4 separate regions of the Homo sapiens genome follow, and regions 1, 3 and 4 are each reported to be linked to region 2. The links are microRNA targets in miRTarBase. Many come from high-throughput screens and were not tested one by one. Region 2 holds a microRNA gene; each other region holds the end of a gene's coding sequence.
The links. Region 2 holds the annotated microRNA hsa-miR-1266-5p (CCUCAGGGCUGUAGAACAGGGCU, at 2,624-2,646, shown strand). A microRNA usually pairs through its seed, bases 2 to 8, with sites in the 3' UTR of a target mRNA and lowers its output. Matches are read on the target gene's strand: a 7mer-m8 pairs with bases 2 to 8, a 7mer-A1 pairs with bases 2 to 7 and ends in A, and an 8mer does both.

Region 1 (7,542 bases), not on the chromosome of region 2:
AGATATTACCAAATCTTCCTCAAACTCCACATCCATTTGATATATACCCTGAATCATCCCATAAATTTTATATCTAAGATATCTGCTCCAAACACAATCTAAGTTCATCCTCAATACAATTTGGAATGCCCTGCCACTCTCTTCCACACAAGAATAGCTAGCAGAAGGGAGAGTAGAAGAGGGAAGAGTATAGGGGCATACAAATACTGCATTTATGAGCACCATCTTGAAAAGTGGCATCTCAGCTTTAATTGCCAAGGCAATGATCTATTGACATGAGAGTTGTTTATAGAAAGTTTCTTAGCCCATTTGTGCCACTATAACAAAATACCTGAGACTGGGGAATTTGTAAACAACAGAAATGATTTCTCACAGTTCTGGAGGCTGGGCAGTCCAAGATCTAGGTGCCAGTGCCAGTAGGTTTAGTGTCTGGTGAAGGTCTGTTCCTCATATATAGCACTGTCTAGGTGTCATCACATAGCAGAAATGACAGAAAGGGCAAAGGGGGATGAACAGTGTGTTCTCACATGGTAGAAGATGGGAAGAACAGAAGAGACTAGGCTAGTTTCCTCCAGCCTTTTTATAAGGAACTAATCCATTTATGACGGTGGAGCCCTCAGGATTTAATCACTTCCCCAAATACAATGGGGATTTAAGCTTTAAATTGAATTTTGGATAGGACACATGTTCAAGCCACAGCAGGAAACAATGTGAAATATGCCAAAGAATGGCATCCTCTTTACATGTTTACTTTTCCTGCATCCTTACCATCCCAGGTCATAATTTTTGGCTTGTTCCCTAAGATACTGGGGCCTGTCTTCATCTTGCTCATCTCTTCTTCCCACTTCAAATTAAATCAAGATTAATTTGCCTTGTCTTGGCATTCAGGTAAGTTGTAGCATTAATCAGTAAGAATAACCACCCACACAGAAAAACCAAAACAAAACCTTTACTTAAGTAGCTCACGGAATTGGAAATCAAAAGGAGGGTGAGGGTAAGGTTGATTAATCTACTTGTGTAATTATATATTTAAAGCTTCAGGCTCTTCCCTTCTTGTTTCTCTGCCATTCATGGCTTCATCTCAATCCTGGTCTTAGGATAATTGCTAATTGTAATTGCCACTGCATGCTTCTTTGTTTGTATCTCATGAGAGGGGAAGACTATCACTCTACTGCCTTTTTTTTTTTTTTAAAGTAAGGAAACGTTTTTTCAGGGTTTCCCCTCAAAAACCTTATGCTTATTGTTCATCACCAAAGGTGGCTATATGTTTATCCTGAATAAGACCAGAGTCAAGGTACTTGCTTACCAATATGCTTATCAATATTAGCCTGGTTACCTCTATTAACTCCAAGCAAGGATATTGGGACACCCATACTAGGTTAGACTAATCCAGATCCATCCCAGGAGCTGGGATCAATCCCTAAAGCCCTCTGGTGGATGAGGAAATAGATGCAAAATTAAGAAGTGGTAGAATCCATGTTGAGGAGACAACTACAATATCTATTAGTTAGGTAATGAGGATAATTTCCACTTAGTGGAAGGCATTTTTTATTTTAAAATCTCAAACTTTAATCTCAAGTAATAGAAAGTGTGCACTTCAGAATCAGCCAGATGCTACACATACTAGTTGTGCTACACTGGATAGTTCACTCACTGAGCCTTTTCTTGCATCTGTAAAATGGGGATAGCACATAGCTCACAGGATTGTTGCAAATATTTCATAAGGTAGTATAAGAAAAATAACTGATAAAACTACTCAGTAAGTGTTGGTTTCATTTATGACAATCCTTGTCTTTACTTCAAGAATAGTGGAGAATGGAAAAGAATCTTCCCACCCTCCTACTTAAACAGAAGCTAACAGGTAGAAATCAATAATTAAGGCCAACCAATGTAAAATTTTTTTCTACTTATATCATGACATTGTTCATGAAATACTATATACGAAGTACAGGAGAAAGGGTTGAAGTGCTCTGGAGAGGAAATCCTAAGAAGAACATGCTGAAGGTCTTTACAATACCATTGGCTGCTTTTAAGATTTTCTGGTTTTGAGCAATTCGATTATGATGAGCATTAGTGTAGTTTTATCTGTTTCTTGTGCTTCAATGAGCTTCTTGGAACTGTGGGTTTAGAATTTTTTAAAGTTTGGAAATTTACCATTGTTTCTTCCTATATTTTTTTCCGTACCTCTTTACTTAAAGAGACTTATTACATGTATATTAGGCACTTGCAGTTGTTTCACAGCTCTCTGATGGTCTTTTCATTTTTAAGTTATTGTTTTCCTTCTGTGTTTTATTTTGGATAGTTTCCCTTGGTATGTCTTCAAGTTTACTCATCTTATTTTTTGCAACATCTAATCTCTCATGATTACCATTCACTGTGCATTTCATTTCACACATTACAGATTTCATATCTAGAAGTTGGACTGGGATTTTCTTTATGTATTCTGTGTCTATATTTAACTTTTTGAACATATTGAATATAGTTACAATAACCATTTTACAATAACCATTTTAATGTCCTTGTCTGCTAATTCTAACTTCGATGTTAGCTCTGAATCAGTTTCACTTTTCCCCCTTATCATGTGTTATATTTTCTCACTTTTTTCATGTCTGATAATCTTTAGTTGTATACAAAATATTGTGAATTTTCCTTTTTGGGTCCTAGGTATTTTTTATTTCTACAGATATTCTTGAAGTTTATTGTAGGATTCAGCTAAGTTACTTGGAAACAGTTTGATTCTTTCAAGTCTTACTTTTAAGATTTCTAATGCGGGATTATTGCAGCAATTAGCCTTGGGCTAATTATTATTAATTACTAAAGTAAGTCTCTCCTGAGTGCCCTACCCAATGCCTAATGAGTTGTGAGATATTCCAGTCTAGTGGATGAAAATAGGCAATTTTCCTGGCTTTCAGTAAGTAATGGACACTATTCCCTCTAACCTTTCAAGTGACTCATTCCCCAGTGTTGGGTAGTTTTCTCATAGCCATGTGAGTTTTCAGCCATGTGCTGAAAAGTACTCAGCTAAATATTCAAGAGATATACCTACAGGTCTCTGAGCTTCTTTCTCTGTGCACCTCTTACCTGAGGTACTCTGTCTTATGAACTCTGCTATCTTGGTAGAGTTCAAAATTGCTAGGCTGTCAATAACTGTGTGCTTAAACTTTTCAACCTTCTTTCTATTGCCACAAAGCAGTCCTAGACAGAAAACTAAAAATAAAGTTACTGACAGGCTGTGTAACAGTCTTTATTCCAAATCTTTATAATGGTTACAAATAGGCATTCAAATAACTAAATTTAAAGTATTTTCCTTACCATTTGCCAAGGACATTATTTTTATAATGTACTTTAATTCTAATAATAACCCTAAAATACAGGAAGCATCATCCTTATTTTAGAAATGTAGAACCTGAGACTCAAAAAATTCAATTTGCAATTAACTTTGTATATGAGCTATTATCCTTTGTGTTTAGATATAAATAACTTTTGCATGATAATCATCAGTGAAACTATATTATTTGGTAATCTGTAAATACTGGGTATCAAAAAGTATAGGTGTATTTACAAAGTGCAATGCCAGACAAAAGCCAAGAGATATTCTCAGAGCTACAGCTAGAACAAAAACATTTGAGAAAACCTAGTACTTTTGAATAATAAAAAGGAGAGAATACTAAAAAATCTCAGATCAGTTTAATGTTATTGTCTGGTATAATTCTCAGAGAGTTGGCTTGTAAGATTTAGAAAGGAATATAATTGAAATATTTTAAAATTCCCATTTTTAGATAAATTTATTTGATCTGTAGGTTTGATATGGGCTTAGTATGTTTTGACTTCAGTAAAGCATTTGATAAATTTCCCCTCACCTTTATTTTGATATGGATAGAATGAAAAAATTGATATTTGATTCTTAAAGGAACTTTTTTTTTCTTTTTTAACAAAGAACATTGACAAATAACTTTACCAGCCTATAGAGTTGCCTCCTTTGATGGTAAGGAGGGCTTAGTCCTGCCTTGGTCAACACTTTTTCAAAAACTGAATTAAGCAATAGAAAGCCTATGAGGGAGAGTTATGTAATAATAGAACCAAGAGCCAAACTCTCAAGATATCAACATGCTGAGGGGATAGGACAAAAACCGATAAGAAATGGTTAAAAGGAATAAATGTAAAGATCTGTTCTTAGGTTAAAATTATACAAATAATGTGGAACTAAGAAAACAGAAAACTTAAAAATGCAGCAACAGCACTAAAAGTAAACATGCCTTTGTTTGGAATTCATCCACTCCCTCTCGCTCCCCACCTCCACACACTAAAATGACATGCTATGTATAAGAAATATCAAAAGCAAAGAGACCCAGAAAGAGTTTAATAGAGAGCATAGATTACTTGGCAAATAAGATGTGGAAATGTTGTAATGGTAAGGGTATAATGATCAATAAATGGCTCCATTGATTTTTTAGGCATTGGATAAAAATGGTTTCAGCAACAGGAAAGCAAAACTTTATGGATACAAAGAAATAAAGAATTATATCAGCTAGACTTTCTTGTTTTTTCTGTTTTTTTGAGAGGGAGTCTGGCTCTGTCGCCCAGGCTGGAGTGCAGTGGCGCAATCTCGGCTCACCGCAAGCTCCGGCTCCCAGGTTCACGCCATTCTCCTGCCTCAGCTTCCCGAGTAGCTGGGACTACAGGTGCCCGCCACCATGCCTGGCTAATTTTTTTGTATTTTTAGTAGAGACGGGGTTTCACCGTGTTAGCCAGGATGGTCTCGATCTCCTGACCTTGAAATCTGCCCACCTTGGCCTCCCAAAGTGCTGGGATTATAGGCATGAGCCACCGCGCCCGGCCGGCAGTAGACTTTCATACAGCTCTCTTATTCTCTGAATGAAGGAGACAAAAGTGAGAATATAGATTATATAAATAGCATAACTAACAATGTAGTCTCAGTATGTATATAACCAACTTTATATGCTTAAATCACAATTTGCAACTTCCTTTTTATTGACCATGAAACATTGACATAACTGACCGTATACTATACTAGTCCACCAAGAAAGCCTCAATACATTTAAAAAACCAGAGATGTATGATCCACATTGTTACAACATTTGGGAACGTTCTTACTAAATTAGTATGATGCAATCTCTTGCCCATTACTTTTAATTGACAGTGTAATTTAAATGACTAATTTTACATTAAGATATCTATGGAACACATAGAATAAAATATATAAATTATACAAATTTTTAAAGATAAAGCAGAAGATTCAAAGAAACTGCACTTAATGGGATGACTTTGAGTTGTCTCCTTTCTCCCTAATCCTCAATTCTTTTAGGGGAATTGGGCCCAAAATTTTGTGAAAAATTATGTGTATTTATTTTCATAGTTCAGTAAAATCTAGTCAGTGAATCCCTACTAAAATGGAGTTAATAGACAAAGAAATTTCTCTTACAATAGCATTTAAGAGCTTGGGTCAGGTCTTCAGAGGAAGATTTTTAGAAAGCAGGCATGTCCTGATTTTCCTCAGGACAAAAGAAACTGCCTATTCAGCTATACCCTGAGCTTCTCTGGACAAAGGCTGAGTCTTACCTACTTTTCTATCCCCATTGTTTGGCTGAAGGCTTGTTCCACAGTAAGTGCTCTTTAAATGTGGACTGGACATGTAATGTAAGCTTCCTCTTACCTGTTGGCAAGTAAGATGGATTTAAGGACATTGAACTTCCCCACTTCTGTCATGGTTTAGCCCCAACTAACCCTCAGGGAGTAATTAGAGGAACATGTCTACTCCTAGGAAAAATCAGTGCATTCCCACGTGCAGTGGGTTGCCCTTCCCACTGGTGTTTATAGGGTTCTGAGTGGAAATTGAGTGAGAGGGTGCCTGCGGCTCTAGCTTGCAGCGGGAATTCAAGAATCGATTTGACATCCCCTGTTCACTTTTTCCTACTTTGTTTCTTCCAGGTGTGAGGAAAGTTCAAGAGGGGAAAAAATAAAAGACTAGTGACATAATTTAAGAAAAGGATGATTGCAATGCATCCTGAAGCTGCCTATCTCCAAATATTCTCTCCTATAGGCAGGGCCAACAGGTATAAAGGGGAGCAGTCAGTGGGCTCTAAGGATGAGTGGAGGTAAAAACCTGAAGGAAGATAATGTCCCTTAGAAAAGTATGTGTGCAAATTGTCTAACTAGATTTGAGAGATGATTCATAAGAAACAAATTTGAGAATTATTTTATTAAGAAATATATAGTGTCAATTACAAAGGAACATGTACATTTTCAAAAGTGTTCACAAAATAAATTAAAGTAGATTCTATAATTTATATGTATATTTATAGTAGCTGTAACAAAGGTACTTCTCAGGATCTACTTGTATATACCACTCTTGTCTGTTAGATAATATTTAAAACTTGGCTTAGAATACTTTCACAATACTTTGCTTGAAAATTATTTCAAATTGCTTCACTATATTTACAACTATTTGTGAAACCCCATTTGCTTTCACTTTCTTCTCTTGTAAATTTTTAGTTTAACACAAGAAGTGTCATTACATGTAGAAGGAATGTCTGTCTTTTAAATGTAAGTTTAGGTGCTATCATTGAGTTCAATATTTTTCCTTTTTCAGGGAAAAGAGTTCTCCTGCTGCACTTTTGGATTTTCCTCTTGAGCAATGCTTATGCAACTACAGCCGAGAATTACTGCCATGAAGCCAGTCATCAATGTTATGGAAGCTTCCCTCAACATTTGAGGAGTAGTACTTCCCCTGCATTATAAACTTACACAATAAAAACTTACAAAAGTAAGTTAAGAAACTCTTCTGTAATTAAAAGATAACTATTTGTGGTCTTCTTTGTCACAGTTAGAGTTAATGTTTCATCTACTTAATAAAGATGATTTATTTTGGTGCTGTGAAATATGACCATAATAAAGATGGTTTACTGTTGTTTCAGTAAAGGTCGATTGAAGCGACGCCACAATCCTTGTAATTGTGACACTTGTTCCAGACATTTATTGGTTGTGACTTTCCTTTTTCTCCTCTTCTTCATTGCCTGAGTAGCATTTATCTGCAGAATATAAGAATCAATAGTCAAAATTACTTTTCACTATCTTTAGTAACTGTTGAGAGCAGGTTTAATTGCCTTCTCTATGCAAATCCATCTTTCAGTGTGTCTCCAAAGCACCTGCTTACTATGTGCTAGCATGTGCCTTTTCCAGGGGAATGCCTTCCTGTTTCTGTACCCACCTACTTTTGCTTCAAGGCCAAGCACCACCTCCTTCAAAAAGCCTCCACTAATTGCTCAGACCTTGCTTTTGGAAACTCTTCCAGTACTTAAGAGTGTGTGTCATTTAACTTGGCTCTCACTTAACATGCTTTTCTTTATATTGCATCATAGGTATTCCCCATAGCACTGAATACAGTGTCTTAATCATAGGAAACACTGAATATTTGTTGAGTGATTAAGTAAATGAATAAATTGCTGATTTCAAGACCTCCCTGACAAGATCACAAGTTCCTCATGGGCAAGAGCTATCTTATACCTGTTTATAGACATCATT
Region 2 (7,822 bases):
TGTTGCTATAAGTACATTTGCTTTTTAATGTCAGTGATGACTCTGATGGAGGGGTGGATAGGACAAAGGACAGTGCTTCAACAGAAACACCAAAAATCTTTTATTTCCAGAGCTTTAATTTTTATCTTTGTCCATAGGAGCTGGATTATTCTGTCAATCCAGAATCTCTGCCTCCACTTCGGAATCCTGACATCCTCGTGGGCGAGAATGACCTCACGGCTCTCAGCTATCTTCACGAGCCCGCGGTGCTCCACAACCTCAGAATCCGCTTTGCAGAATCCAAACTCATTTACACCTACAGTGGTAAGGAGAGCAATTCTAGGAAGTAAGGAATGGCACTGGAATGTAAGCTTGCTGTCTAGAGCCTCCTGGTTGTTTTATGTTTATACTGAGCACCCAGAGTTTGTTGTAAAAAGAAGTGTCTGGGTGGGGAGAATCTTCAACAAGAACTAAGACTGGACTACCTAGAAAAAGAGATGTAACAAAGCTCGTGTTTGAGTTTCTCATCAGATTTCATACATTTATTACTTATTTTGGGCAATGATATTACTTACACTGCAAATTGCAAAAACCTCTCCATTTGCGAGCATTTCCACCTGTCCTGTCAACCAACCGTCAGAACAGCCCGAGGGTGTAGGTGACTGGCAGGGAATTAATTCAGTGCGTGAAGTGACTTGCCCAAAGTCACACAGAAGGTTTAATAAGCGACAGAGCTGGGGTTTCTTAAAAAAAAAAAAACTGGAGATGCAGGTGGCAGTAAGAGTATTTTAACTGCATCTAACATCTTTCCCCAGGAATCATTTTGGTGGCCATGAATCCTTACAAGCAGTTGCCAATATACGGAGATGCCATCATCCACGCCTACAGCGGGCAGAACATGGGCGATATGGACCCACACATATTTGCCGTGGCAGAAGAGGCATACAAGCAGATGGCCAGGTAGCTTCCTGCCAAGCTGGACTTCCCCTTGCTCTGCCAATGCTCCCTGCATTTGCCAGACCATCACAGTGGAGGGGAGATATCTAGGTTGGGCTCATTAAAAGAGATAGGCCAGAGGTGGTGCTTTGTTGAGCCGACTACCTGGAATGAATAGCAAACGACTGTTCCATGTACCTGACCTGTCAAGACTGGAGTTTCCTGGGTTTTGTTCCTTCAAGGTAGTCAAGTCAGTCCTACCAGTCTGGGAATAGCAGATGCTTTTCTTGCAGTGTGTTTGGTTGGAGGAGTGTTGATTTATTCTCTGCTATGAGACGTTTAAGCTTTTTTTTTTTTTACCCATTGCAGGAAGTAGGATCTGATGACAGGGTTTTTAGCTGCAGGAGGTTTTAGGTGCAGGAGACATGGAATTTTATCCTAATTTCACTGCTAGGTGTTTGTAGGGCCCTGTGGAGTTCTCGTTTCACTAGTGCACATGTATGAAAAGCCTCCTGTGAATGAGGCACCGTGCACACATTCCCATGTGTCATCTGGGATGGCCTCAGAATAGCCCACGATGCAAATGTCTGGGCAGTAAACAGCTTCAGGGAATAACCAACCCAGGGTAGGCAGCAAGTAAAAGGCAGATCTGGGATTTGTGCTCAGATTTTTAAACTCTAGTTTATTTTTCCCATAACTATCACTTTTGGCTTCAGTGTCTTCATCTGTAAAGTATGGAGAATAGAAACACCACCCTATCTTTGTAGCTGCCTTTACAGTTTGCAAAAGAACTTTCACATACAGTGGTCTCCCTTGAGTCTTACAGCACTCCTGTGAAGTTGACTGACTTCATTGCCCTCATTTCACAGATGGGAAATCTGAGGCACAGGACCTGGACCTGCTGACTCTTTACCTAAATCTTTACTGCATAACCCCAGCCGCAGCTCCTGAGCTCCCTCCGCTTTATGTCTTCGTCTGTGAGCTGGACTCTCAGAGGGCACCCATTCCTGGTTCTGATGCTTATAATGAGGGAGCAGGTGGTGCTTACATGAGGTAGAACACGTGCTGCTTTCCTGCACAGATGTCTGATGGGCAGTCTGGGGCTAGACCGAGCTTCTTCAGAGTCATCAGAGACCCGGTGCCGTGCAGCTCCCTGTCCCTGGGGTGGGGCCGTCATCCTCAGGGACAAGCCAGTTCTCACCTCTGTCTTCCATATTCTAGGTAACAAGGCATATGAGGGGAAGGGTATGGCCCTCCAGGTTAAGGAGACTCTCTGGAAGCCCCACAAAGCACTTCTAACAGCTCGTCAGGCAGACCTCACTCACATAGGGAGGCTGGGATGTGCAGTCTTTCAAATGCACAGAGGGGCACTGCCTGGCCACTGGGGCCTAGTCCCTAAGAAGGAAGAGGAGAATGCAAATGCATACTGGGTAGAGAATTAGCAGCTTCCGCTGCACCAAGATTCCTTCTAACCCTAAAACCCCTGTGGTTCTGAGATTTTTCCCTGGCTCCCTGTAGGTCTCCCAGGTATCGTGGTGATTAGGGACTGGGTATGGGTGGGATGAGCTCTTTGGCACTGTAGGGCTGTGCTCACTTCAGCCCTAAAGAGCCAGTTTCTCCTTGGAGGTCTGTCTGTGTAACTGCCATAACAGAACGGAGCCCAAAGCAGGCTCGTGTTGGCCTTGTTTGATGCTAGACAGGTAGTGTCCCTCAGGGCTGTAGAACAGGGCTGGGATTACTAAAGCCCTGTTCTATGCCCTGAGGGACACTGAGCATGTCATTTCACTTCTCAGAGTCTTCATCTTCTCTCTTTGAAATGAAAATATTGGACCGGGGCTCTGTATCCAAAGTCTCCTCTAGCATTTACATGGGAGGCTGTGGCTCTGTGCTCTGGGTCAAGTCACTCCACCCCTGAGTCACCATTTTACTCTTCTGTAAAAGAGATATCTATGTCGTAGGATTTTTGTGAAGCTTAAATGAGAATCTGTATTCACCCAGCACCTGGCATGTGAGCGGTGCCACATCCACAGAGCCATGTTAGAAGCTTCCACCATCACAGTCTTATGACATGAAAAGTTTAATGCATTTTTAAAAAATCTCTAAATTATATAACAGAGCATGTTGGCTTAGAGAGCGCATATGTTCCCAAGCATCTTTTGAATAATTGCTCTCAAAATAATGTCCTTGAAATGTTTTTATATTTAAGTGGGATGTGCAGAAAGGAGTTGACATAAGGCCTGAGGCTGCTATCTTTAGAGGCCTGCTTGCAAGGTGGCCCATGGCTAGCCTCTGATTTCATGACGGTTCCTGACATTTCTTGGTTGAAAAAGTGGCTCATTTTACCTAAACTCAAGCTGTTTGTGTAAATAATGTGCTTTATGCTGAATACGTGCTTTCCTTCTGGGAGTCTGGAATATTGGCATATGCTAGGCAGAAGGTGGGCACTGCATCTCTAATGAGCTTCCCTGGCAGCCAGCATTTCACATGTGCTGTCAAATTCCTTGCTGGAAGAATTGAATGTGTCCTGTGTGACCCGACTGGGAGAGGACCCCTGGAAGTTTGCACCCGTGTTCCACTGGACCTTGCCCCGTGTGCCTTTTCCCCGTGCTGCTTTTGCTGTGTATCCTCTTGCTGCAATCAGTCTTAGCTGTGAGGATGACTATATGCTGAGTCCTGAGAGTCCTCTTACTGGGTCATTGAACCTGAGGTTGGTCTTGGGGCCCCTCAACATGGTACTCAATAAATACATGTTGACAGGCAGCATGATGACCTACACAGGGTCCATCTAGAAAGAGGGTGCTCAGGAGAGGGTGGGGAAGGCAGAGGAGAGATGAAATGAGAGGTGAAATTCAAGAACAGAGTTTAAAAGCAAAAATCCTGCCCAGAGAGTGGGAAGGATGGGAAGGAGCAGTTTTTTGGTTGAGTGGAAAGGTTGAGTAGGGAAGCAGTAAGGAGTAAGGATTTGAATAAGGTTGGATGAAAGATGTGAACTTTTAAAATTGTGTGTTCTGCACGATCACATAGAAAAAAAAATCTAGAAGGAAATTGATTGAGATTTAAAAATAGTAGAGTGACAAAACAGTTTCCCTCTTTTGTCTTGTCCACATTTGTCTTAATTAGCACATGTTGCCTCTTTAATGGGAAGAAACTAATATTTGAAAACTTTTATTTGCTTTAGAAACAACAGAAACCAGTCCATAATTGTAAGTGGGGAGTCAGGTGCTGGAAAGACAGTGTCGGCTCGCTATGCCATGAGGTACTTTGCCACCGTCAGCAAATCGGGCAGCAACGCTCACGTGGAAGACAAGGTCCTGGCATCCAATCCCATCACCGAGGTGCGTACCACTGCGGAAGGCAGCTGGGTGTTGGTGATGGAAATGGGGGTTGGTTGGTTTGTGTGCTCTCCTGGCTAATTCAAGTTCCCACCCTTTAAAGACTAAAGAAGTGAGGGCAGGAAAGACCCGGGAAGCCTATTTGCTGGTGGGATTTGAAGGAGATGGGGGCAGAATTGTTACTTTCAAGGCTCTCTTCTGCTCTACCTGCTGGGCTGGAAATCTACCATCAGACTCCAGGAGTCCTCTGTTTACATTTACATCCCAGGGGAAACCAAACATCACTGGTACACTGAAATCACTGGTGTTCTCCACCCAGCTGGCATCAGCATTCATGAGCTGATTGTTAAAATATTCAGGAATTTTGCAAGCTGATTGATAAACCTTTGGTAGTTTGACATCAGTCAGGGGAGAAGTATTTATACCTTCTGCCTTGGCAGAGGCCACATGTCAAGACTCTTCCTCCTGCCCTCCCCAAGAGCCAGTTCATCAGCACACTACTGACTGGGACAGAGAGTGGGCAAGGCCAACCGTGACGGTGCCCAGGGGGGTGAGGAGACAGCCCTCAAGGAAGAAGAGGCACCCAAAAGGCACAGAGGAGGGTCCTGCAAGCCAACTCCAGCTGCCCCGCAAAATGGGAAGAGGATTGATTTGAATTTATTTGGAAGCAAAGCAAAAAATTAAGAATATTAGACTACTAGACCTCTTCTCCCTGTTTTCTCAAATCAAAATCCTCAATGAATATTTATCAGACAATCTACTCTGTTGAAGTCACTGCTTAGCTAATGTGGGAAGTGATGGAAAAGAATAAGACCCAATCTCCAAGTGTAAGATTCTTCTAACCTAATGTAAGAATATTTTAAAATTAAATAGAAACATATGTCGGGGGGGGGGTACTAAGAAACACTGCAAAGCTCATAATTCAGAGGCATAGGCTTACTTAGAAACATAAATTACAATCCAAGATACCAATAGAAAAGTTATCAAGGCTGGGTGCGGTGGCTCACATCTATAATCCTGCACTTTGGGAGGCTGAGGTGGGTGGATTGCTTGAGCTCAGAAGTTCCAGACCAGCCTGGGCAACATGATGAAACCCCATCTCTACCAAAAATACAAAAAATTAGCCAGGTATAGTGGCACATGTCTGTAGTCCCAGCTACTCAAGAGGCTGAGGTAGGAAGATTGCTTGAGTCAGGAGGTGGAGGTTGCAGTGAGCCAAGATTGCACCACTGCACTCCAGCCTGGATGACAGAGCAGGACCCCATCTCAAAATAAAAGTTATCAAGAGCCAGTGCCAAGTTAAATGCCCAGTGGATAATTTTGTGTAAATATTTAGGGTTTGTCTCCTCTACTAGACTGCACACTCCATGAAGGCGGGACTGTATCTATTTGGTTTACCTTTGTTTACCGAGCGCATGGCACATAGTAGGTGCTCAGTAAAGACATGTTGGCAGGCAGCATGATGACCTGGGTCATCTAGAAACAGGGTGCTCAGGAGAGGGTGGGGAGGGGCAGAGGAGAGATGAAATTGAAGAACAGAAGTAAAAAGCAAAAATCCTGCCCAGAGAGTGTGAGGGATGGGAAGGAGCAGTTTTTTGGTTGAGTGGAAAGGTTGAGTAGGGAAGCAGTAAGGAGTAGGGATTGGAATAAAGGTTGGATGAAAGATGTGAACTTCTAGTTGAGCATCATAGGTATTTGGGGCCTGAATGAGTTGAGGCACCTCATATTCTCTCATTTAATCCTCCCTACTCTGTAAGTGTTCTGGTCAGTCTGGGCTGCTATTATAATAATAAATATAATGTACTTTAGTATAATATACTTTAGTGTCATTGACCAGGTGGCTTATAAACAACAGAAATTTATTTCTCGCAATTCTGGAGGCTGGAAGTCCAAGATCAGGGGGCTAGCAGGGGTCAGGTTCTAGAGAGGCTTCTCTTCTGGGTTGCAGACTGCTGTCTTCTCACGGTACCCTTACATGGCAGAAAGAGAGCAAGAGAGGTCTCTGGGATCCCTATTATGTAGGCATTAAAATCCCACTCCCAGGGGCTCCACCCTCGTGACATCATTACTTCCCAAAGGCCCACCTTATGATACCAATACATAGGGTTAGGATTTCAGCATGAAGATTTTGAGAGGACACAAACATTCAGTCCATAACAGTGAGTTGCTTATGATTCTCATATTACAGATAGGGAAATTAAGACCTGGAAAGATGAATTAACTTTTTTGTTTGTCTGTTTTTGAGACAGGGTCTCGCTAAGTTACCCAGGCTGGAGTGCGGTGGTGCAATCATAGCTCACTGCAGCCTCCAACTCCTGGGCTCCAGCAATCCTCCCATCTCAGCTTTCTGAGTAGCTAGGACTACAGGCACACACCACCATGCCTGTCTAATTTTTTTTTTATGTTTTGTAGAGACGGGGGTCTCACTGTGTTGCCTCATCTGGTCTCAAACTCCTGGCCTCAAGTGAATTTCTTGCCTCAGCCTCCTGAAGTGCTGGGATTACAGGCGTGAGCCGCTGCACCTAGCCAGTGAATTAACTTTTAAGACATTACACAGATAGCAAAGATAGAACCCAGGACCCTGAAACATCAGAACCTGTGCTCTTTCTGGTCCTCCCCAGTATCTGCCAGTGGGACCAAGGAGAACCTTGAGCAGCAGGCTCATGTTCTGATTTGTCATGTTCCCTGCCAGCGTGGGGTTGCTTTCTTTCCCCAGACTTCCCTCTGCCAATCAGACCTTCCCCTAGGGTACAGGATTGCCTTTTACTAAAAACCCCTCCAATAATTTTGAGGCAAAAATCTTTTAATGTTGTTATTTCAATAGAGTCTTATTTTTTTTAGGCCGTTGGAAATGCCAAGACCACCCGCAATGACAATAGTAGTCGGTTTGGGAAATACACAGAAATCAGTTTTGATGAACAAAATCAAATTATAGGAGCCAACATGAGCACTTACCTCCTGGAGAAATCCAGAGTTGTCTTTCAAGTAAGTATTAAATTTCCTTTTCCCCAACTTTTTGAGCATTATTTACATTTACATACTTATTATACATACTCAGGCAAGCTACACTATGCTGTGAGTTGAAGAGTAGGGTTTTCTTGTCTTTCATTTGCAGTTTGGATTCTTTTTTCTGTTTATTAAAAATTGATGGATGAATAGGTGTAATATCAGGTGAGTTGTATGTCTGCAGGAAAAGGTTAATGACTTTTTAATTTGGGGGATTTACAAAATCCTTATAGTTTAAAAAGCAAGTATCTCTTTCTAGAGTACGAAAACTGTTTGAAATAGGCTAAGCTGACAGACTGGCTTTCCTATCAGGAAGGGAATGGGATCAGAGCTATTGAGGGGGTTTTAAAAGAAAGGCTTTTCTGCCAGTAAATGGAGAAATTTCTCATCGTTTTGGCCCAGGAGGAGAGCAACAGAAAGCCTTGTATTGCAGGAAGTTTGTAAAAATTTCACTAGGATGAGTTACGCCATTCCCATTTCATAGGACGTTTTCATTTAATAACACTTTCTCTGGGTTGCTCATTACTTGGAAGGCCATCTCAGGCCACCCAGTTCTCAGCTGAGAGGAA
Region 3 (7,822 bases), not on the chromosome of region 2:
AAAAGAGGTGCGAGGGCTGTGAGATCCCGGAGGCACCGACGGGAAGCGAGACGGAGAACAGGAGGGCAGGACGGGCTGGAGGTGGGGGATACTGCAGATGGAGGGAGCCACGGTGGGGGAGGGCGTGGACCTGACCGTCCTGGCACAAGGCGGTCGGGTGCAGACCTCCAGGCCCTCCGGGTTAAGGTGCCGCCCAGAGCCCTCAGGCCGGGGGCGCACGGAAACCACAGGCAGGGTGCGCGTGGAGGGACGGGGAAAGCGGGGCGGGTTGGGGAAGGCGCCCCGGGAACCTGAACCTCCCACCCCGCCTCAGTCTCGACCACTCCTTAAGCCCCACCCCGCCCCAGGTAAGGCGCAGTCCACCCCCATTCCCAGTAGATTAACGCACAGGTGGGGGCGCGCTCGGGACATAGCTGCGCTAGGGGACAGCGCGCCCAGCCCAGTCGCGGGGGCGAGGAGCAGGGCGGGGCCCAGCAGGAACCCAGCTTTGTTAGCGATGCTCCCCGTGAGCCACGCGCCACGCGTACGCGCTTCCTCAATGGGGCCGGGCGTGGAGCCGCGCCCTGCGCGATTGGCCAAACGGGTGGCCCACGATTGGCTGAGACCCTGGCCCCCGCCTCCTCGGCCCCAGGAGGGTGGGGCGTGGGTGTGGGCTGCGCGGCGCGTGCTGCCCCCGGGGATCTTGCGCGCCTCCCGAACAGCCGTGTTGTCGCCAGGGCCGCGCCTTCCCTCCCACAGCGCGCGCTGCGCGTGCGAAGGTCTGGCGGCTCTTGGGACTGGCGGGGCTGCGCGCGGGGTTAGGGTGGGGGTACGGGAAGGCTCAACCCAGGACCTGCGTACCTTGCTTTGGGGGCGCACTAAGCACCTGCCGGGAGCAGGGGGCGCACCGGGAACTCGCAGATTTCGCCAGTTGGGCGCACTGGGGATCTGTGGACTGCGTCCGGGGGATGGGCTAGGGGGACATGCGCACGCTTTGGGCCTTACAGAATGTGATCGCGCGAGGGGGAGGGCGAAGCGTGGCGGGAGGGCGAGGCGAAGGAAGGAGGGCGTGAGAAAGGCGACGGCGGCGGCGCGGAGGAGGGTTATCTATACATTTAAAAACCAGCCGCCTGCGCCGCGCCTGCGGAGACCTGGGAGAGTCCGGCCGCACGCGCGGGACACGAGCGTCCCACGCTCCCTGGCGCGTACGGCCTGCCACCACTAGGCCTCCTATCCCCGGGCTCCAGACGACCTAGGACGCGTGCCCTGGGGAGTTGCCTGGCGGCGCCGTGCCAGAAGCCCCCTTGGGGCGCCACAGTTTTCCCCGTCGCCTCCGGTTCCTCTGCCTGCACCTTCCTGCGGCGCGCCGGGACCTGGAGCGGGCGGGTGGATGCAGGCGCGATGGACGGCGGCACACTGCCCAGGTCCGCGCCCCCTGCGCCCCCCGTCCCTGTCGGCTGCGCTGCCCGGCGGAGACCCGCGTCCCCGGAACTGTTGCGCTGCAGCCGGCGGCGGCGACCGGCCACCGCAGAGACCGGAGGCGGCGCAGCGGCCGTAGCGCGGCGCAATGAGCGCGAGCGCAACCGCGTGAAGCTGGTGAACTTGGGCTTCCAGGCGCTGCGGCAGCACGTGCCGCACGGCGGCGCCAGCAAGAAGCTGAGCAAGGTGGAGACGCTGCGCTCAGCCGTGGAGTACATCCGCGCGCTGCAGCGCCTGCTGGCCGAGCACGACGCCGTGCGCAACGCGCTGGCGGGAGGGCTGAGGCCGCAGGCCGTGCGGCCGTCTGCGCCCCGCGGGCCGCCAGGGACCACCCCGGTCGCCGCCTCGCCCTCCCGCGCTTCTTCGTCCCCGGGCCGCGGGGGCAGCTCGGAGCCCGGCTCCCCGCGTTCCGCCTACTCGTCGGACGACAGCGGCTGCGAAGGCGCGCTGAGTCCTGCGGAGCGCGAGCTACTCGACTTCTCCAGCTGGTTAGGGGGCTACTGAGCGCCCTCGACCTATGAGGTAACAGCCGGGAGGCAGGGAGGAGGGAGGGCCGGGGGCCGGGGTGGAGGGACGGGGTGGGCAGGCCCGGCGGGTCGCGCCCCCAGGAGCCCGCGGAGCCGAGCGCCAGGCCCGAGCGATGGCTTCGATTTCGCTCACTCTTCATTTCCCCCAAAGTTTTTCAAGCCCGTGCAAGACCGGCGTTTGTTTGTCCGGGATTGCAAAACTTCCCCTCGCGGCTCAGCCGCCGACGAGGGAGGGGTAGACGAGGGGAGGGGAGCGGCCGTCGGGCCGTTGAGGTCTCTAGTGCTGGCGGATCCTGGGGCAGATTGGGGTGCTGGAGGCGGGGTGACTTTGCATTGCAAATCGCGCTCCCGGGCCGGGGCGGCAGAAATGAGTCGGCGGGCGCGGAGCCCTGACTCACCGCGGCTCCGAGCGCCCGCCCCGCCCCCGCCGTGTCTCAGACCGAGTCGCGGCACCCACGGACTCAAGACTCCAAAACCAACCGAGCAAACGAAACTGCCGACTTCGCTTGGGGGAGGTGCGGGCAGGGCCGGCCCGGGCGGGGTCTGCCCCGGGCCCGCGCCCGCGTTGACGCGCGTTTGGTTCCCCACCTTCCCCCCGCAGCCTCAGCCCCGGAAGCCGAGCGAGCGGCCGGCGCGCTCATCGCCGGGGAGCCCGCCAGGTGGACCGGCCCGCGCTCCGCCCCCAGCGAGCCGGGGACCCACCCACCACCCCCCGCACCGCCGACGCCGCCTCGTTCGTCCGGCCCAGCCTGACCAATGCCGCGGTGGAAACGGGCTTGGAGCTGGCCCCATAAGGGCTGGCGGCTTCCTCCGACGCCGCCCCTCCCCACAGCTTCTCGACTGCAGTGGGGCGGGGGGCACCAACACTTGGAGATTTTTCCGGAGGGGAGAGGATTTTCTAAGGGCACAGAGAATCCATTTTCTACACATTAACTTGAGCTGCTGGAGGGACACTGCTGGCAAACGGAGACCTATTTTTGTACAAAGAACCCTTGACCTGGGGCGTAATAAAGATGACCTGGACCCCTGCCCCCACTATCTGGAGTTTTCCATGCTGGCCAAGATCTGGACACGAGCAGTCCCTGAGGGGCGGGGTCCCTGGCGTGAGGCCCCCGTGACAGCCCACCCTGGGGTGGGTTTGTGGGCACTGCTGCTCTGCTAGGGAGAAGCCTGTGTGGGGCACACCTCTTCAAGGGAGCGTGAACTTTATAAATAAATCAGTTCTGTTTACCAGTGGCTCCTATCACCTACACTTCCCAGGTGACGGCCAGACTTCCGTGGTCACTACTCCTCAAACCCTGCTGCCTCCTCCGTAGGGTGGGTCTGGGTGAGATCTGGAGTGCAGCCAGGCCGTTGATAGCGGAGCCATTGGGACACCTTGTGAGGCTGGGGGCATCCTCCAGGAGGTGGTGGGCTGGTGGGTTGTCCAGACAGGGCTACTCGCTGGCTTGGAAGCTGCAGGCTGGAGGCTGCTGACCCATCCCGAGGGCTGGGGTAAGTGCTGGGTGTGGGGCTAGGCTGAGGTGGTCTGACCAGAGAGCACCGGCTGTGGGGCTGAGGGCATGGGCTCCTGCGCAGGCCACCACGCTCAGATCTCCACTAACGTGGCAGCTGGGCAGCCCAGGGCAAGTGGGTTAACTTGCAAATGGGTTTGACCAGACCCACCTCAACGGCCTCTGGGAGGAGTTAGTGAGAGGTGCCTGGAGGCTGCCCTCTCGCTAGCTTTGGGTTTTGCCCGCACTGGGGAGGCCCTGCAGGTCTCCGCTCACCTGAATTCTAAGAGCGGCTCTTGAAAGGAACAAGGAAGGCTTGGAAGCTTTGCGCCAGGCTCCCCGCAGCCGGAGAGCTGGCACTGGGATATTACACGGCTATACCTTTGACTCAGGGCCTAGGAGGCTTTGATGTCTCACTGTACCGAAAGCTGCCTTTTAGTGTCCTGGTGGGGGAGGGGTTGTGGGGCTCCCCCGGTTTCTTTAGGGCGCAGAGGCACCCCTTCCTTCAGAAAGGAGTGGTTGGGACAGAGCCGTGGGAGCCCTGCGAGGTGGGAGCAGCTGGTGTTGTCCCAGAGTGGGTGGCTCCTGAATAACCACGGCAACAGGACACCCAGGCTACCGGGATGCCTGGGTCTCAAACGTCAGGCTGGCCAGGTCCCTTCTTATCAGAGGAGCTCAGGGCTCCTCTCTCGCCAGCTGCAGCCTCAGTCCAGGTGGGGGCTCCTCAGCAGCCAAGGTCAAAGCCGAGTCTGTAGCGGGGGTCAAAGGGGTCAGCTGGTCTGATGAGGACCAGGCTCAACTGGGGTCAGTGGACCAGCTGTGGCTTGGGGCTGCAGGGCTCAGGGAACTGGCCTTGGCCAAGGGACAGGAGGGGGCACATTGCCGTGGTCACCCAGGGAGGGACATCCCACAGGCTTCTCCCAGAATCCACACCCGGGTCGGTGGCCTCCCTGAGCCCTCCCCAGGACTCCACACCTTGACCTCAAGGAAAGGCCCACAGCTGCCAGGACCACAGGGGGCTGTTGGGTGGGTGAAGAGGGTAGGGGGGAAACGATGGAAGGCCAGGGCAGAGGAAACGACTGCCACCCACTGGCGTGAAGCGGACAAAACTCTGCAGAGGGTAAGTAGTGCTGCCATTTTTGTTTTCCCATTTTCCCATTTTTCATTTTATTATGGAAAATTTCAAACATACACAAAAGCACCGAGGCCTTTGTTGAGCAGTCTCTGTGCCAGGACTTAGGGTGCATCCGTGTGCCACACAAGCCCGTGCTCGTGGAGCCTGGGTCCTAGCAGTGGACACAGGATCCAACCGTTGTACAGTCTGGCCGGTGGAGGACGCACTGGGCTCCAGGGCAGCCCTGGGAAGCCTCCAGCACCAGTTTCAAGGCCCTTCCTGCCCCATCCATCCCCCACGCCATCCCTGCGTTGCTTTGAAGCAAATCCCAGACTTTGAATCCTTTCACCCGTCATGTTTCACGTGTGCCTCTAAAGGAAACCGCAAAAACATCACCCGCTCAAATGAACCACCGTTCTTTCATATCATCGGGGACCCAGCCAATGGCGCAGTCCTCAGGGGGTCTCGTGGTTTTGTGCAGTTGGCCTTATAGAATCGGGATCCGCCGCAGGTCCACACATCAAGTTTGCTTAATAGGTCTCTTAAGCGCCTTGTAAGCAATTTCCCTCCAGTGTCTTCATTGAAGAAGCGGAGATGTCTGTTCCGTTGAGCCCCCGTGTGCGTGGTGGTGTTGATGGCACCGTGCTGGGTGTTGTTATTGGGAGCCTGTCCCTGTATTTCCTGTAGGACAGGGTATGGGGTGCCAGAAGCGGACCTTTGATCAAGTTTGGGGTGGCCTGCAAATGGGGTTGACACCAGGCCCACCTAATGAGTGTGACAGAGATGCCAAGAAAGATCCGTTCCAGGGAGACAAGGGACTCCCTTTCCGAGTTTGCCTCGAGAACTACCCAGCAAGCTTGTGGAAACTTCCATAGACCTCACAGCGATCTAGGCCCAGGCTATCCCCTCGCCTTCACTGGGGCAGAATCGCGTCGTGGTCTAGTGGCTTCCCACCCGTTGCCACCTCCTTCCTGTGTATTTCCTTTCACACGGGCGTTTCCCCGAATGCAGTCCTTATCCAGTTCATCCCACTTGGCACCTGCTGCTCAGAGGATGTAGTGCTGCTGGACTGCATCTCCCAGGAGACAGGACTTGTAGCGACGATGTAACTTGCTGTCCCAGCGGGGACATTTTTGAGACTGGAAAGGGCTGTGGTTGATAACCAGGACCACAGGCGAGTCTCCTGGGCACAGTGGGCTGCTGATTGCCGTGTTATGAAGACCCCTCCCCACACTGTCATTCACCCAGTGCCCAGTAAAGATGAAGTGCCTGAAGTCACAGGCAAGCTGGTCCAACCCACCTTCTCTTGCTGTCGTTTTGTTTTAGGCTCTCAGCAGCCTAAAGTCATGGTTTTAGTTTCTGTCTCTAGTGATAAGCAGAAAAGAGGGATGAGGAAGGGACCCTGCTGGCTCAACCAGAAACAGAAACTAAGAATCCATGACTGTCTTCTCTCCCTTGGACTCAGCTTGAAAATGATGAGAATTGAGATTTAAGCCCTGGACTCTTTCACTTCCACATTCTTGCAATGTTCACGCCTTCCAGGAAGTGAGGCTGAGCCTGGCGGCTCCTTTGGGGACATGACATCCTTAGCAGTTCAGCATTTGAGATCAGTGAGCCTGGACAGAGCCTCACCTGGCCCAGGTGCCAGCCTGTCCTGGGCTCTGCTGTGGGGGCAGCAGGGCTCTGCTAGGAGCTCATGGTCCAGGCCTAGTCCCCACCTGGAAGTTAGAAACTGATTCCAGGGAGAAGGTGATCGTGATGTCATGTTCAAGGTGCTAAAATATAAAGCATTTTTCTTTCTTCTATAGTCAACCTCTTGACTTACTATTTTATACTTCTTATTTTATACTCACTATTTAATGCCATTCTGAGTAAGAAAGATTAGGAATTTAAGTGACTAGCGTGAATGTAGTTATCCATCTTTATATTATGTGATGCCAGTTTAAAATGCAAGCATAAGAGCATTTAACTTCTATGCGGAATCACTGGAATGACACAGTGTGTGTTTTGTCCTGGCACAGGCGTCTCTATTTCATTTGCTACTAGAACAGTGGAAACTGCACAAAAATGAAATCAGCTGATTTCACTCCTTGACGCAGGCTTGTTCCACCAGCACCCTCCACCTCCTGCTCGCTGATGGGCGAGGAAGGAGGGAAGGGACAAGTTCAAAGACAAAAGGCACTGTGGGTAGATCCATCAGCAAGAGACCTCGGCTAACACAGAGAAGTCGCACAAGTAAGAAAGGACATGACAGGTTCCCGGGTCCTGCACGTTTGTTAGAACACCACTGGCTTCCTGCTGCATCCTTAGCAAGTGCGGATTTGAATGGAAAACGTGGCTGCTCGGTGGCCATCAGCGCCCGGCTTGCTCATGCGTAGGTGTGACACGCTGCCTTGCACTGCTGTGGGTCCCTGGCACCTTTTCTGTGTGGCCTGGTGTCTGTGGGCATCGTGGATGCGCTACTCAAGTGGGGGGACGAGTGAGGGTGGATATACATTTGGCGCCTTGTGCACGCTCTCCTTTGCTTATGTGAGTGCTGCTGTATGCCGTTGGCCTGCACCTGCAAAACAAGTTAGAAGATAAAAGTAGTCAGATTCCAAAGGCCAGGCAAGGTGGCTCACACGTGTCATCCCAGTGCTTTGGGAGGCTGAGGCCGGAGGATTGCTTGAGCCAGGAGTTCAAGACCAGCCTGGGCAACACTGGGAGACCCCATCTCTAATAAAAAATAAAGCAAAATAAAAAATAAAAAAAGAACTTTAAGATGGCAGTAGCAAAGCATTAAACCAAGGTTGGGGCCCTGTTCATGGCGGGGCCTACGTGCCCTACGCTGGTGAAACCCACTCTGGTGCTACCCCTCAGAGCTGGGGCAGGGGGGCCATGTAGAGAAGCCCCTCCACATCACCTAATCTCTGCCCCACCCTAAGACAAGTGGAATAGTCAGATGGCGATCCCCCAAATGGAAGCAAGCTTGTCCCACTCAATGCAGAAAGGGATGGGGCAGGGACACTCGCTGTGAGCAGGGTCCCTGGTGTCCATGCACCTTCGCTTCTCCCAAAGTGGCCTTCAAAGACCTTCAGTCATCCCAGAGACCTCAGCAGCACAGCTGTGCCCAGAGGTGATTAGCCAGCCGGAGAGAGCCTTGGACAGAGCTAGACAGGGCAAGGTGGACGGGGTTGGAGGCGGCCTGCCCCTCAACGCCATGTCCTCAGCTGTAGCACGCACAGCCCAGA
Region 4 (7,822 bases), not on the chromosome of region 2:
GCATGGTGGTGGGCACCTGTAATTCCAGCTACTTGGGACGCTGAGACAAGAATTACTTGAACCCAGGTGAAACCCCGTCTCTACTAAAAATACAAAAAATTAGCCGGGCGCGGTGGCGGGCGCCTGTAGTCCCAGCTACTCGGGAGGCTGAGGCAGGAGAATGGCGTGAACCCGGGAAGCGGAGCTTGCAGTGAGCCGAGACTGCGCCACTGCAGTCCGCAGTCCGGCCTGGGCGACAGAGCGAGACGGATGAACCCAGGAGGTGGAGTTTACAGTGAGCCGAGATCATGCCACTGCACTCCAGCCTGGGCAACGGGGAGACTGTGTCTCAAAAAAAAAAAGAAAAGAAAACAAAAAAAAAGAAGACTGCAGCAAAGGCTCCTGGGCTGCAGGGGCCCTTGTAGAACTTCTGTTTTCCAAGCCCTTTCTCAGTAACGTATTACATATTGATTATACAAAGCCTGTGAAGTTGACAGAGAATGGGTATTTATTTCCATTTTACAGATGAGAAAGTAGAGGCCAAGAGAGATGAAATGGTTTGCAGGGACTGGGTCAGTCCAGGGGCCTAGGAGCTAAATCATTTGACCCTTATCATGCCAGGCCATAAGGACCCAGAGAGAGATTCTTTCTGCAAACATGCACTGAGCACCAGCACCCACTGGGCATCAAGGCTCACGTGGCCTTGTAGTTGAGACCATGGCTCTGAAGCTGTATGGCCTACATTTGAGTTTGGTTCCAACGTTTGGGTGAACTTTGGCAAATTACTTAAGCTCTCTCCTAGTTTGCTCGTCTTTAAAATGGGAATGCTGGCTGGGTGCAGTGGCTCATGCCTGTAATCCCAGCACTTTGGGAGTTGGAGGTGGGCAGATCACTTGAGATCAGGAGTTCAAGATCAGCCTGGCCAACGTGGTGAAACTCCGTCTCTACTAAAAATACAAAAATTAGCTGAGTGTGGTGGTAAACACCTGCAATCCCAGCTACTCAGGAGGCTGAGGCAGGAGAATCGCTTGAGCCTGGGAGGTGGAGGTTGCAGTGAGCCAAGATTGCGCCACTGCACTCCTGCCTGGGCGACAGAGCGAGATTCCATCTCAAAGATAAGATAAAAATGGGGATGCTGCTTGTACTAACTCAGGGACCATTATCGAGGTGACATGGGGCCTTGCCTGCAAAGCACTCAGCATAGCTCCTGGACTGAGGCCGGGACTCTGAAACATTAGTTGTTATTAGCTACAAAATGGGTGAGCCATGATCCCTGTCCTCCTGCACCTTGGAGTTCATTAGATTCCCTGCCTATTAACATTGGGGTTGTTTTATTTAACCGCTGAGTCTTGATTTCTTCATCCATGTGATGGATTTCTTAAGCCCCATCTCCCTGGATAATTCTGAGACTTACATGGTACGGAGTAGATGTGCTAAGTGTTTGTCATTCTCTTGGTTGACTGGCAAGAGAGCCTTGAGCTTGGGACTCAGTGGCAGAGGTGGCTGGGCTGAGAAGGGCATTTCAGTGTGGGGGGGCGGGGATCTCAATGGGGCCTGGTTTGGGATGTTGGGAAGGGAGCGCAGCCTCTGGGTTGGGGGAGAGTTGGATGAGCGTGCCGTGCAGGTGAGGGTGGGCAGGCAGGATGCCTAAGGGGGCACTGGGCCTACCCTGCTTGCTTTGAGCCCACCTGCGTTCTTCTCTTGCAGGTTCATCTATGAATTCGAGCACTTCAATGGTGTGGCTGAGCTGCTGGAGATCCTAGGAAGGTGATTCTCCCTGGGCCTCAGCTGGAGCTCAGGATTCTGGAAGGAGGGACTGGGGCCAGGTCACCTGAGCCCTCTTCCTCTCTTCTGCCTCCTCCTCAGCATCATCAATGGCTTTGCGCTGCCCCTGAAGACGGAGCACAAGCAGTTCCTGGTTCGCGTCCTGATCCCCCTGCACTCTGTCAAGTCGCTGTCTGTCTTCCATGCCCAGGTGAGGCCCAGGCCTGTCCCTGCTGCAGCAGGAGCTCCAGACAGTCAGGGCAGCCAGTGGGTCCTGGAGGTCAGATCCTCCAGGGATCCTATCTCACCTTCTTTGTCTTTATAATTCTGTTCCATCTACCTTAGAAAATTCCCACTGGCGCTTTAAGGCTAACCTCAGATATCAGCTCTGTGAAGCCAGGCTTTTCTTCTCTACCCTCCCTTGGCAGAATTACATTCTTCTCCATCTATATTCCCAAATATTTGGATACACAAATCTATTATGGGAGATTTTGATACACAATTTTTTTTTTTGAGACAAAACCGTACTCTGTTGCCTCAGCTGGAGAGCAGTGGTATGAACATGGCTCACTGAAGCCTCTACCTGCTGGGCTCAAGCAGTCCTCCCTTCTCAGCCTCCCGAGTAGCTGGGACCACAGATGTATGTGCCACATGCCTGGCTAATTAAAAAAAATTTTTTTTTTGTAGAGACAGTGTCTTGCTATGTTACCTAGGCTGGTCTCAAACTCCCAGGCTCAAGTGATTCTGCTGCCTCGGCCTCCCAAAGTGCTTGGATTACAGGCGTGAGCCACCACACTAGCCATATTATGGAACCTTTTGCAAAATTTATAAAGATGAGTTTGTTGACTGTCCCCACTCCCCGCGAGATCAGAGTTGTATTCCCAGCACACTGAATGTGATGCCTGGTACATCCTAGGCAGGTGATAAATGCTTGGTGAATAAGAAAGTAACAGGCCGTGGGTGAGCAGTATTTGGCATTCTGTCCTGGACAGCAAGTCCTTGGCGCCTGGTGCCTTCCTGACCTGTCTTCCTTCCCTCCACCTGTCACCCCCTGCAGCTGGCATACTGTGTGGTGCAGTTCCTGGAGAAGGATGCCACTCTGACAGAGCACGTGAGTACCTCTGGGGGCTAAGGCAGCCTCTCACCTCTGCAGGCGTGACTCCTGTCTCATCTCCCACAGGTGATCCGGGGGCTGCTCAAATACTGGCCAAAAACCTGCACCCAGAAGGAGGTATGAAGAAGGGCTTTGATGCCCGCCAGAGGGAGGCTGGGAGGGCTCGGCCTCTAGAAGGCAGTCAGGTGTGTGTATGTGTAGGGGGAGATGTGAGCTGCTGCCCCTCTGTCCCTACTCCCCTCCCCAACCCACCCAGGTGATGTTTCTGGGGGAGATGGAAGAGATTCTTGATGTCATCGAGCCCTCCCAGTTTGTGAAGATCCAGGAGCCCCTTTTTAAGCAGGTGGCTCGCTGTGTTTCCAGCCCCCATTTCCAGGTATGAGGCAGGACAGGCGGGGATGGGAGCAGGGCTGGCCTGGAAAGGTTGGGTAGCTGACCTAATAAAGCTCCCTTTGCCCTCAGTTTCTCCTCCAATCCCGGGTCTGGTAATGGGGAGATGCTGGACTTAGGGTCAGGAGACCTAGGGTGAAGCCTCGGACCTGCCTTCCACTGGCTGAGGGGCCTTGAGCAAATCACTGCACCACTCTGATTCTGATTAAGCTTCCGCAGCTGTAAAATGGGCCAACAACCTCTTCACAGGGTGGGGATAAGGATGGAAGAGATTGTGAGTGTAAACATGTTTGGTAAACTGAAGTGTGATCCAGAATGTGATGGAGGACTGTTATCACTTTTCCCCTTTTGCTAGTGGCCTTAGATTTCATTAGACTCGCTTTGGGATGCAGCCAGGCTTCCCCGCACCAACCCAGCTAACTAACTCATGTTCTGCTGCAAGCATGTGCAGACTTCCTCCCGTTCTTATGGGCCATAACCCAGTGGAAGTCAAGTCTTCCTCACAGTGATTCTGGCACTTCGGTTCATTAAACACCTAAAAGTCTAGTATCTCATTTGATTCTTATAACATCCTGTTGAGATAGGTATTATTAGCCCATTTTACAGATGAGAAAACTGAGGCTGGGAGGTTAAATGCCTCTCCCAAGGTCACATGGCATAGTAGAGTCTGTAGTGGTTAGGATTCACCCCGCAGCATTGGATTCCGTATCTAGAACTCTTTTCCCTTCAACACTGTTGCTTCCTCCAGGGCTCAGATAAGCCCTGAAGGTGGGGTGTGTGAAGGTCAGGGGGCCTGGGCGTTGAGGTAGTGATGGACACCAGACCTTGCACACAGAGAGAAGCCACTGCCAGTTAATCACTCTGCCATCTTGTCTGCCCCAGGTTGCAGAGCGGGCTCTGTATTTCTGGAACAATGAGTATATCCTAAGCCTCATTGAGGACAACTGCCACACTGTGCTGCCTGCTGTGTTTGGGACCCTCTACCAAGTCTCCAAGGAGCACTGGAACCAGTGAGTGCCAGGCCATGACCTAACTCACAGAAACTGGGACCAGGGCCAGCCAGTCCAGACCCGACCCCAGGGTTACTCCTAGCTGGAGAATATCAGAGAAAGCATCAAAAGATGGCCCAGGGGTGGTGAAAAGGACAGGAAAGTGGGCAGTGCTTGTGTTCAGGTGGAATGCTGTATGTGAAGGGCAGGGAAAGGGAGAGGTGGGCAAACCAAAGCTGTTTCATCTCCTCATCCCTCCTTGACACTGCCAAGAACCATCGTATCACTGATCTACAATGTGCTCAAGACCTTCATGGAGATGAATGGGAAGCTGTTTGATGAGCTCACAGCCTCCTACAAGCTGGAAAAGCAGCAGTGAGTGTTGGGGGCTGGGCGTGGGGGAAGGGAGAAGAGCAGGGAGGAGTCAGACCCCCATGGCTGGAGGGAACCCGAGGACTACCCCAAACTCTGTCTGATCAGATGCTGCAAGACTGTCCATGCTCCTGCCATCCTATGCCTGACTGTCTGCCCCTGTATCCTCCCGTCATTCTTCGAGTAGCTCAGACTTGTTCTGACTCCCTGTAGCTTCCTACAGAAGCCAGAACCACTCAGGCCCCACCCGTCATCTTCTCTGTGACTGCAGGCTGGGATCTGTCTGTCCTCTGCTCTCTTCCCTCAGTAGAGGGTTTTTATGGAGTCACAGAACAAAAATGGTTCCATGCCTTCCCTTTGCCGGTGGGGTGGTAGTGAGGGAGTCTGGACTGTGAGGGAGTCTGGACTGTGGGGGGCCCCAGGAAAGGGAGCTGCCTCACCCTCTCTCCCCAGGGAGCAGCAGAAGGCCCAGGAGCGTCAGGAGTTATGGCAAGGTCTGGAGGAGCTGCGGCTACGCCGGCTACAGGGGACCCAGGGGGCCAAGGAGGCCCCCCTCCAGCGGCTTACACCCCAGGTGGCCGCCAGTGGGGGTCAGAGCTAGACAGCACCTCAGAAGGGGAAAAGCTAAACCCAGAGCTGTCAGTCCCTCTATCCCTTCTCCTGTCCAGGGGCCCAGAGAGAAACACACCTACCCCTGGCCTTGCCAGAGTGGCTTCTGAGGACTCCCTGCCCAGCCCAGCTTTCACTGGGGGGAGACGAGGAGAGGCAATGGTGGTCTTGGCAACAGAATGCTCAGCCCCTCGTGGCAGGACTTGACAAGGGCAAGCTTGACCAGGAAGCTGCCATCAGGGATCTTCCCCTGCCCCGCAAAGCTAGGCTCCAGCTGCAGGCGGGCTCCCACCCTCTGCTCCTGGCCTTGGGCAAGGGCACTCAGCGCCTCGCCTGCCCCTGCCTTGGCCAATGCGAGGTCCTTCCTTATCCCCACCATGGGGTCCATGGTCTATTTATTCTCGCCCAGCTCACCCTCTACACAGACACTGTCCTGGGTGCACACTCCTCCCTTCCCTCGCTGTGTACTTCCTTGTCCCCTTTTTATTTATTGGGCAGGGGGAGGGGGAGGGCACAGGCAAGAAGAGATTCACAGTGTCCTGGGGTAAGGGGGGGTTCACAGTAATCATGGTCTACTCCTCTTTCCGTGGCTGGGGGTAGACTTAATAAAGAGAGAAATTCAAGAACTGCTTGCTTTATTTAGGGGTAAGGGCAAAGAGGGAAGTAAAATGATGAAAGATTGGTTTAGAAGGGCCAGGCAGAGGCAGGGAAGAAGCAGAAACTCCCCTCTTCTCAGGTGACAGTCACAAAATCTTACAAAGGATCAAAGCTGGAACAACCCTCCCCTTATTTAAAAAAATTCCATAGCAAGTAACCATCAGGGCTGGAGCTCCTTCCAGTTTTTGAATCTTGAACACAGGTTTCCCCCACCAGAACGTCAAGCCCTGTGACCCAGGGGAGGAAGGAGGGGAGAGGATGGGCTAGTAGCGAGAGAGGCGACACATGTCACACTGGCAGGCCCTGGCCGTGAAGATCTCGAGCTCCTCCCTCCGGCTCCCCACACACTGCAGCTGTACTTTGACCTGCGGGAGAGGGGAGTCCGTGCTGCAGTCCCCTTTCTCAGGGCTGTCTAGGATCTCCATCTCTCTGGTCTTCCCGCGACCCCAGCGTCCATCCACCGGGCCCGGGCCCTCCTCACCTTCTTCAGGCCACTGATGGTGCAGCACTGAGAGACGGAGGTGATGTTGTGTCGGTAACCACTGGCCACCAGCACAGAGTACCGAGAAGGGAAGGCGCTGGACTCACAGTGGCCCACACAGGCCTGTGCCACGTGGGAGCCCTGGCAGGTGCCTTGGCGGTCACTTCGCACTGTCACATTGAAGGCTAGAAGGAGATAGGCAAGCAGTAGACGGCGCCTCTGCCAAGGTTTGCCTCGCCCCAGCTCCCGTTGCCTGTGCCTCAGTGTGGGGCCCTTTAGGGTGCTGCCTGCCCCACCGTCCACTCAGCTCTTTGCTCCCACCCAGAACCTCCACTGCTCCTAGCCCTCCGGTCCCAGAGGTACTCACGGTGCAAGTGGCAGCCTGGGATGACTGCCTCCTGGCCCCAGGCTTCAGTGACTGCCAGGACCAGCAGATAGAGGACCAGGGTTTGAGGGGACGCCATAGGCATCTGAAACACAGTGGGGAGATGTCTCTACGTGGGTGTGCAGGTGGGATGGCGAGTTCTTTAAATACTGCATTCCAGGTGAGTGAGCCAGGGCTGGCTGGTCTGACAGGTGAGGTGTGCCTGAATGGTGCTGCCTTTTCCCTGTATCTGCCTTTGTGTGTGTGTGTGTGTGTGTATGGGTGTGAGTGTGAGCAGCTGTCTCTGGAAAGGACCTGTGTGTCAGCCCTCTGTGCAGTGATTCTCCCTTCCCTGGAATTTTCTTCGCCATCTGGAGCGCAAACATCTTCCTCCCTCCATCTGCCCCATCTTGGCCTGCAGGGCCCTCGTCCACATTCCCAGACCCTCCCCAGAGCTCCTCCTGCCTCAGCGAGCTCACCACTTCCGAGGCCCAGGAACAGAGCGGCTTGCAGTTTTCCTGTGCCTCCTGCTGGTCTCCAGCTTGGTGCTGGCTCTCCAGGCTTTTATTTGCCAGCATTTTGGAGCCACGCCCTCTTGGAGATCGGCTTTCAAACCAGCCTCCCCTGCCTGAAGCCTCAGAGCGATCCCACCTGGGGGATCTTGCTCTTTGAGGTGCGGTCCTCGGAGAGCAGCTCCTGCTGCTTTCTGCTTCTTTCTGTCCAAAAAGCTACCCACAGCCCAGGCCTCGATAAGTCAGATGTGGAGAGAAGCCTAGGAGCTGGTGGAGTGTGCAGCGTGTGTGCAGCTGACGACACAGGGGTCAAGACTCTTGGCTGAGTTGTGGACACCTGGGTTCTCTTTGCTCTGTGACCTTGGACAGAACATTTCCCTGTTCAGGGCCTGATCACCCCTAACTTTATTATTATTTATTACTATTATTTTGAGAGGGTCTGGCTCTGTCACCTAGGCTGGAGTGTGGTGGTGTTATCTCGGCTCACTGCAACCTCCACCTCCCAGCCTCCCAGACTCAAGCCATCCTCCCCCTTAGCCTCCTGAGTAGCTGGGACCACAGGCACACCACTATGACCAGCTAACTTTTGTA

Region 1: the mRNA of TSLP is a reported target of hsa-miR-1266-5p. Seed matches in the 3' UTR shown: 7mer-A1 at 6,343-6,349 and 7mer-m8 at 5,747-5,753.
Region 3: the mRNA of ASCL2 is a reported target of hsa-miR-1266-5p. Seed matches in the 3' UTR shown: 7mer-m8 at 3,066-3,072.
Region 4: miRTarBase lists GPHA2 as a target of hsa-miR-1266-5p. Seed matches in the 3' UTR shown: 7mer-A1 at 5,948-5,954.

Annotation. Positions count from the first base shown.
Region 1 is chr5:111,075,453-111,082,994 of GRCh38, reverse strand. TSLP (thymic stromal lymphopoietin) reads right to left here. Exons shown (of 4, transcript NM_033035.5): 4 at 4,969-7,049. The coding sequence ends at 6,921. Among named protein-coding and RNA genes, the nearest start is that of TSLP, 7.5 kb to the right of the region's middle.
Region 2 is chr15:52,271,990-52,279,811 of GRCh38, reverse strand. MIR1266 (microRNA 1266) reads left to right here and starts at 2,612; the gene lies at 2,612-2,695. It overlaps MYO5C (myosin VC), which reads left to right. Exons shown (of 41, transcript NM_018728.4): 3 at 138-303; 4 at 795-939; 5 at 4,094-4,250; 6 at 7,089-7,232.
Region 3 is chr11:2,263,891-2,271,712 of GRCh38, reverse strand. It overlaps ASCL2 (achaete-scute family bHLH transcription factor 2), which reads left to right and starts at 1,125. Exons shown (of 2, transcript NM_005170.3): 1 at 1,125-1,980; 2 at 2,587-3,215. The coding sequence starts at 1,381. The coding sequence ends at 1,962.
Region 4 is chr11:64,928,636-64,936,457 of GRCh38, forward strand. It overlaps GPHA2 (glycoprotein hormone subunit alpha 2), which reads right to left and starts at 7,258. Exons shown (of 4, transcript NM_130769.4): 1 at 7,199-7,258; 2 at 6,723-6,825; 3 at 6,356-6,540; 4 at 5,836-6,239. The coding sequence starts at 6,825. The coding sequence ends at 6,138. It overlaps PPP2R5B (protein phosphatase 2 regulatory subunit B'beta), which reads left to right. Exons shown (of 14, transcript NM_006244.4): 7 at 1,687-1,746; 8 at 1,846-1,954; 9 at 2,801-2,854; 10 at 2,924-2,974; 11 at 3,114-3,233; 12 at 4,130-4,257; 13 at 4,510-4,611; 14 at 5,062-5,840. The coding sequence ends at 5,209.